Homo sapiens: one gene and its partner. The protein of the gene in region 1 purifies or fractionates together with the protein of each later gene. This does not show direct contact. Each region holds a gene or a part of one and is shown on either strand. Other genes may lie near its edges. The genes, in order: TPMT and PPWD1.

The links.
Region 2: the proteins of TPMT (region 1) and PPWD1 fractionate together in Homo sapiens (co-fractionation; one large-scale study listed by BioGRID). This does not show direct contact.

The regions. Positions count from the first base shown.
Region 1 is NC_000006.12:18,134,385-18,138,206, reverse strand, and holds part of TPMT (thiopurine S-methyltransferase), read left to right. Parts: intron 1-3,822. UniProt on the Homo sapiens protein: Catalyzes the S-methylation of thiopurine drugs such as 6-mercaptopurine (also called mercaptopurine, 6-MP or its brand name Purinethol) and 6-thioguanine (also called tioguanine or 6-TG) using S-adenosyl-L-methionine as the methyl donor.
Region 2 is NC_000005.10:65,573,258-65,577,079, forward strand, and holds part of PPWD1 (peptidylprolyl isomerase domain and WD repeat-containing protein 1), read left to right. Parts: intron 1-3,621; coding exon 3,622-3,812; intron 3,813-3,822. UniProt on the Homo sapiens protein: PPIase that catalyzes the cis-trans isomerization of proline imidic peptide bonds in oligopeptides and may therefore assist protein folding. May be involved in pre-mRNA splicing.

The DNA of each region.
Region 1 (3,822 bases):
TATTCCATTATACAGATGAGGAAACTGAGGTCAAAGAGATTAAGTTACTTGTCCAAAGTTAAGCAGCTGGTATGTGACAGAGTTGAGATTCAAAACCAGAGTGTTTGGCTTTGAAGTCCATACTTGTGGCCGGGTGTGGTGGCTCACGCCTGTAATCCTAGCACTTTGGGAGGCCAAGGTGGGCGGATCGCCTGAGGTCAGGAGTTCGAGACCAGCCTGGCCAACATGGTGAAACCCCATCTCTACTAAAAATACAAAAATCAGCCCAATGTGGTGGCCTGTAATCCCAGCTACTCAGGAGGCTGTGGCAGGAGAATCACTTGAACCCAGGAGGCAGAGGTTGCAGTGAGCCAAGATGGCGCCATTGCACTCCAGCCTGGACGACAAGAGCGACCCTCCATTTCAAAAAAATGAAATAAAATAAAGTCCACACTCATGATCCCTTTGTTAGACTACCTCAAAGGATTTTTGTGGGAATTGAAAGAAATGAAATATGTAGGAAATACCTTGTCATCTCTAAAGAACTGTATAAATGAGAGCTGTTATTATTGAAGCATTGTTATTGATGTTTTTGATGACCATTCTTATTATACCGAGTCTTGTTAGAAAATAAAATTAAAATATGAGTGAGGAAGCATACTGAGTAAAATGTGACCACATCTGTATACTCTTTCAATTAAAATAATGTCATTTATGTGCTTACTTGGATATAGCATGGAAATATTGAATTACTTAGTTGTATGGAGCAGACTCATCACTTGGCCAAAAAGGAGGCTGGGCGCAGTGGCTCACGCCTGTAATCCCAGCACTTTAGGAGGCTGAAGTGGGTGGATCATGAGGTCAGGAGTTCGAGACCAGCCTGGCCAACACAGTGAAACCCTATCTCTATAAAAATACAAAAATTAGCTGGGCTTGGTGGCGCACACCTGTAGCCCCAGCTACTTGGGAGGCTGAGGCAGGAGAATTGCTTGAACCCGGCAGGTGGAGGTTGCAGTGAGCCGAGATTGTGCCACGGCACTCCAGCCTGGGCAACGGAGTGAGATTTCATCTAAAAAAACAAACAAACAACCAAAAAAAAAACAGGTTAGGCTCCACATCAGTGAAATAAGATTTTTATTTTTAAAAATTGTTTCATCAGTAAGGCTTACTGCCAAACCTAATCTTTTTAAATTAGACCATGCCGCATCTTAATTTTCATGCTCCTGTTTCCCTCTTTTTCTCACTGCTCCTCCTTTATCTCTTTTCCAGAACTCCCATCCTCCTTGCATGCCTAAAAGTCGTGATTCCCCAAGGGACCACCATCCTCAGCCTTATGCTCTCACCCAAAAATTGCCAATATTTGTCCTACCAGAAAGAAAAAAAAATTTTATGAGAGAAAAATCAAATCTTTTTTTTCGAGACAGAGTTTCGCTCTTGTTGCCCAGGCTGGAGTGCAATGGCACTATCTCGGCTCACCGCAACCTCTGCCTGCCAGGTTCAAGCGAATCTCCTGCCTCAGCCTCCCAGGTAGCTGGGATTATAGGCATGCTCCACCACACCCGGCTAATTTTTTTGTATTTTTAGTAGAGACGGGGTTTCTCCATGTTGGTCAGGCTGGTCTCGAACTCCGGACCCCAGCTGATCCACCCGCCTCGGCCACCCGGTGCTGGGATTAGAGGTGTAAGCCACCACGCCTGGCTGAAAAATCAAATCTTTAAAGATCAATTCTGTTACTTTCATTCAGCTATTCAACAAATATTTACTAAGTTCCTGTGATGTTCCAAATAGATAGTATGCCAGAGGCGGGGCAAGTAACTGAACAGATTATACATGGTATTCGCTCTGACAGTCTTTACATTTCCAGCTCTGTTCTTTCTCCCAAACATCCACATCACATGTCCAGTGTCTGCTTTGCACTTCCCATGTGACATCAGTGTCCTTTAACAACTCAAAATATCACCGAGACCTCTGTCTCCGTGAGACACATTTGTATATGAAACCCCATCTGCTAATGTCTAAATTTGTAGGTGTTTCCCACTCCCTGAAGATGATCATCCATTCCTTAGAGGTTAGTCCTTCTACAGGCTCTGGTTGGCATGGTAAAATCCACCAAGCAGTGGGAAGCAAACTAAAAGTCACCACGTGCAGACCAAGAGCGGACCCAGCACTTTGGGAGGCTGAGGTGGGCAGATCACCTGAGGTCAGTTATTTCCCCAGTGTCTGATATAATATATATTTAGCACCTAGTAAGAGCTTAATAAATGTTGTTTAAATAAATGAATGGAAGAAGTGAACTGCACTCTGAGCAAGGGCGATATTAGTTTACTATGTACTGGTAGTATCTTAGGGTTTTTTTTTGAGATGGAGTTCCACTCTTGTTGCCCAGGCTGGAGTGCAATGGCATGATCTCGGCTCACTGCAACCCCTGCCTTCTGGGTTCAAGTGATTCTCCTGCCTCAGCCTCCAGAGTAGCTGGGATTACAGTAGCGCCACCACACCCAGCTAATTTTGTATTTTTACTAGAGACGGGGTTTCTCCATGTTGGTCAGGCTGGTCTCGAACTCCCGACCTCAGGTGATCTGCCCACCTCGGCCTCCCAAAGTGCTGGGATTACAGATGTAAGTCACCGTGCCCAGCCTTATGTTAGTATTTTATATATGTGCTGGTACTTAGTATCTTAGTTCTTTATCTACATGCTGGTACTCAGTACTTACCATGTTAGCACATTATATTGGTGCTTTCGTTAGGACTGGGTGTCTTCTCCTTAGATTGTACATTGTCAAGTACTGATGTATTTTCTGCTGTGACTCTCGAGTTCTTGCCTAATGTAAACCAGTAGGGCAGACCTCATTTTTCTGGACTTTTTGAGACTGGTTGAGAGAGAAAAACTTCACATTCTAAGAGGAATGAAGTCTTTCAGTCCTAGGAAACCCTACCAAACCAGTCTGACATCCCCCTCATGGGGACAGCAAGTTTCTTCTGAAAAATGAGAATCAGAAAGTAACAGTTTCTGTTCAAAAGTTTGCTTTGATGTGGTTCTTTCACCTACAAGGAAGAGTGATCCACTGGTGAATTCTCACAGTTTGTGAGGTGGTTATTAGTCTTATCCTCATGTTACAGGTGAGGAAACTGAGGTACAGAAAGGTTAAGAATTTGTCAAGCTTACATAGCCAGTCAGTAGAGGAGCTGGGGTTTGAGCCTGGGCATCTCATAGAGTCTGCACTTGCCTCCCCAACTTCTGGCAGACCTCTGGACATAGATCACAGTCTAGCCAGGCTCCATAGAAACTGGAGTGCCAAGAGCCCAGGCTCCTTCCTCAGTGTGGGGAAGGGTGTCCATCTTTGTCCTTGGCCTGTCTCTCATGGCCTCTCTACCACCCTGCATGCGTCTCCTGTCCTCTCCTTATCCCTCAGCTTCCTCCATTTTTATTCCCACATAGCTGACTTGCCTTCAACGGTCAGCCTCCTTGCTCCAACCACCATACAATACAAAAGCTCCAACTTTCAGTAGGACCACAGCTAATTAGCAATTCCTCTTTGGTCTCTTAATTCAGTTTCCAAGTCAGTCATCTGATTGGTCAACTCATCGTCTGTACCTGGTCCAGCCCTGGCTTCTGCTCAGTCTATTGATGGGTCCTGTTAGCATCAGCTTCCCACTCTGAGCCAATCAGACCTGGCTCCCTGAGGCACCTACTCAAAGGACAGTTCCATTGCACTCATGGTTTATGCCACACTTGCAGAGCTTTAATTTCATGCCACCTTTTTTTGGCCTGCTTGTTACTCTCATTTCTAACTAAATAGAGGAAAAAAATTGTGTTTTCTCTTACATAAGGCCCCTGGAGGG
Region 2 (3,822 bases), on another chromosome or scaffold:
ACTAGTCATCCTGTCTTGCACAGTTTTTTTATTTTTTATTATTTATTTATTTAATTAATTTATTTTCTGAGACAGAGTTGCACTTGAGTGCAGTGGCATGATCCAGCTCACTGCAACCTCCGCCCCCTGGGTTCAAGCGATTCTCCTGTCTCAGCTTCCCAAGTAGCTGGGACTATAGGCGTGTGCCACCACACTTAGCTAATATATATATATATATATTTTTTTTTTATTAGAGATGGGTTTTTTTTAGTACAGATGGTTTTTTTTTTTTTTTTTTTTTTTTTTTTTTTTTTTTTAAGTACAGACGGGTTTCACCGTGTTAGCCAGGCTGGTCTTGAACTCCTGGCCTCAAGTGATCTGCCTGCCTTGGCGTCCCAAAGTGCTGGGATTACAGGTGTGAGGCACGGTGCCAAGCCAGCAGAGTTTTTTTTAATGTGACTGTAGATCACTGTTTCTTTTAGAGCATTTGATATGGTCATATTATTTGATTAATGTGTATCACCTCCAGTAGACTAAGCCCTATGTGATCTGTTTTAACTTATGATTCTATCTCCAGCAGTGAGAACAGTACCTCACACAAGAGTTACTCAAATATTTTGAAAGAGTGACTCTAGCCATCACTTGTTAGACTGCTAACAAGAATTTGTTACAGCATGTAGTCGTGGAATAAGAGTTTTTAATCCATGCAGTTAAGCGGTTTCTGTGATTGCAACTATTGCCATCAAGTGGTTCTCTGAATCCTCTGAGTCTGGATTGAACCTTTGTAGCAAAGTTTATTGTATGACAGTGTCAGTTCTTTTGTCCTTGGCAGTGACCAATTTGCATTGGATTCCCTGCTGTAAGCTCTTCATAAATTCTGTCAACTCTTTCTAGTGGCGATCTTGATTTGGTGGCACGTGGTAATAAATGAGTTGGTTGTCTGTCTGTCTGAAGTAATATATTTCCAGACAAATGTGAAGATCTGTTTGCCAGCCAAATTATCCTTATGACAAATTTTCTTGTTGGAAGAAGATAGCTTTCCACTCTGCTTTTAAGGAGAAACATTTATCGGTAATACTTTCTTTAATGGTGGCAGATAACTAAATATGACTTGCAATTTAAATATAATTTTAAAATTCTATTAACTTGCAGCTCTTCCAAGATCCCTTAGGCAAAGAAATATTCAGAATCTAGTCTCTGGACACAAATCTCTTTTTTTTTTTTTTTTTTTTTTTTTTGAGACGGAGTCTCGCCCTGTTGCCCAGGCCGGACTGCGGACTGTAGTGGCTCAATCGCGGCTCACTGCAAGCTCCGCTTCCCGGGTTCACGCCATTCTCCTGCCTCAGCCTCCCGAGTAGCTGGGACTACAGGCGCCCGCCACTGCGCCCGGCTAATTTTTTGTATTTTTAGTAGAGACGGGGTTTCACCTTGTTAGCCAGGATGGTCTCGATCTCCTGACCTCATGATCCACCCGCCTCGGCCTCCCAAAGTGCTGGGATTACAGGCGTGAGCCACCGCGCCCGGCCGGCACAAATCTCTTAACACACATACTCTGAGCTGCTCAATCCACTCTATTTGCTCATTGTTGTCTTCAACATTTGCTTAAATGATTAGCCTGAGGTGACAAGAAGTCAGTAGTAGAACTTAAGACAGAAGTGGAGATTCAGAATGAGAGTTTGCCAAAAAAGCCAACCATCAGTTAAATTACTTACAGTGCTAGTGACTAGTAAATGACTGGAATCTCAAGGAGGTGGTAGTGGAGGAGGGTAGTTTCTAACCAGTCGGAATCCTAGTTTAACAGAAAAGAAATTGAATGGGATGGTGTAAATTATCTTTTAGTATTTATTAACCAGGGTCACTATATATGGCTGTGCAGTTGAATATCACAGAAGCCCTGCTATGAAGTCTAGAGCACTCTGAAAAAGATTCTGATCAGGTACTTACCAGGTTGGATAACATTTATGGAATACTTATATAGGGACAGATGACCACCTACAGACCTTATGCCTTAAAAACTGAGTCTTCTCTCCGGCAGAAATGATCATTAGCCCTTCCCTGCAAAATGTGTAGTCCAGCATCCTAGGCTATTCCTGGCACATGAATAAGCAGCGTAATATGTATCAGTCTCCCTGTCTTTGAGACTAGAGACAAGAAAACCTAACAACTAGGCTTTTTAACTGTTCTGTAAGACCTTGACCTTGTGCTTATACCCTAACACACATACCTCATTTTGATTTTTTGAGTTTTGTATATAGTTCTAACCTTATCTAGAAAACACAAGATTATGGTTAATATAAGCATGAAATAAGGATAGAATTAGATGGGACAGAAGTCTGGCTTATTTTCATCTGCAATGGAGAGCTATTTTTGAATGCTACTGTTTGATGCCCTGATTGTGTAGAAAAGAATGTAAAGATCGTTACTCTTTTGGAAGGTTCATAATATGTTAATACAGTTATTGAGATGTGATGCCTATCTTGAAATTTGTGTAATATCAAAAGAAAAGTAAACCAAATTTCCAAACTATAAAGGACACTTATAGAAATAGTCATGTCTACTAAATAACATGTACCTAATGGTAATCTCACTGCCCTGTGTCAGAATAACTTGAGACATTTTCTGAAATATTATGAATTTGTTATAAATTAGTGAGATGAATTCATTCAGCAAAAATTGAGTGCTTGTTATGTCAGGCACGTAACCTTGCTCAAGGACCTCATAGTCTATAGCTGCATTATCCAGTATAAACAGTCACTAGCCACGTGTCTACTGAGCATTTGATAGATGGCTAGTCCAAACTGAGATATGCTGAAAGTGTAAAATACAAGATTTCAAAGACTTAATTTTTTTTAAAAGAATGTAAGTTATCTCAATTTTTTATATTGTTGAGATGATATTCTGGATATTTTGAGTTTAATCAAACATTAAAATGAAATTCACCTGTTTTCTTTATACTTTGTTTAATGTTACTAGACACTTTAAAATTACCTATGTGGCTTGTGTTATATTTCATTGGAAAGTGCTACTCTGTGACTTTTAAAAGGCAGCAGATGTATTCTGTAGAGAAAGCAGTAGTTCTATTAACCAACCGGGTTTTGTTTTAAATTAGAAGAACCAGTTACCATTTTGAAATACAATTTTTTTTTTTTTTTTTTTTTGAGACGGAGTCTCACTCTGTCCCCCAGGCCAGAGTGCAGTGGCGCAATTTCGGCTCACTGCAGCGTCTGCCTCCTAGGTTCAAGCGATTCTCTTGCCCCAGCCTCCCGAGTAGCTGGGATTACAGGCACACATCACCATGCCCGGCTAAGTTTTTATGTTTTTAGTGGAGACGGGGTTTCACCATGTTGGCCAGGCTGTTCTTGAACTGATGTCAGGTGATCCACCTGCCTTGGCCTCCCAAAATGCTGGGATTAGAGGCATAAGCCACCATGCCCAGCCTGAAATACTATTTTTTAGTGATTGGACTTACTAATGTCTATTTCATATTGTTTAGAATCCCTCTTAAGAAGTACAAACAGTTAGTGGCTCTTAATATGTATTCTGCTTCTATTTAAATTCTCATTGCATATATAGATAGATGGGTTGATATAGATATAGGTATATGTATATAGAGTTTTTGTTACTAAATGGTTTATTTCCTAGATGTTTACTGAACTGCAACAGATGAGGCAACAGTTACCAGACATGGAATTTGGCCGACGAATGGCTGTAGAACGTGAGTTGGAGAAGGTTGATGCTGTAAGATTAATTAATATAGTTTTTGATGAAACTGGACACTTCGTGCTGTATGGAACAATGCTGGGCATTAAAGTTATAAATGTAGAGACAAACCGGTAAGCTTTA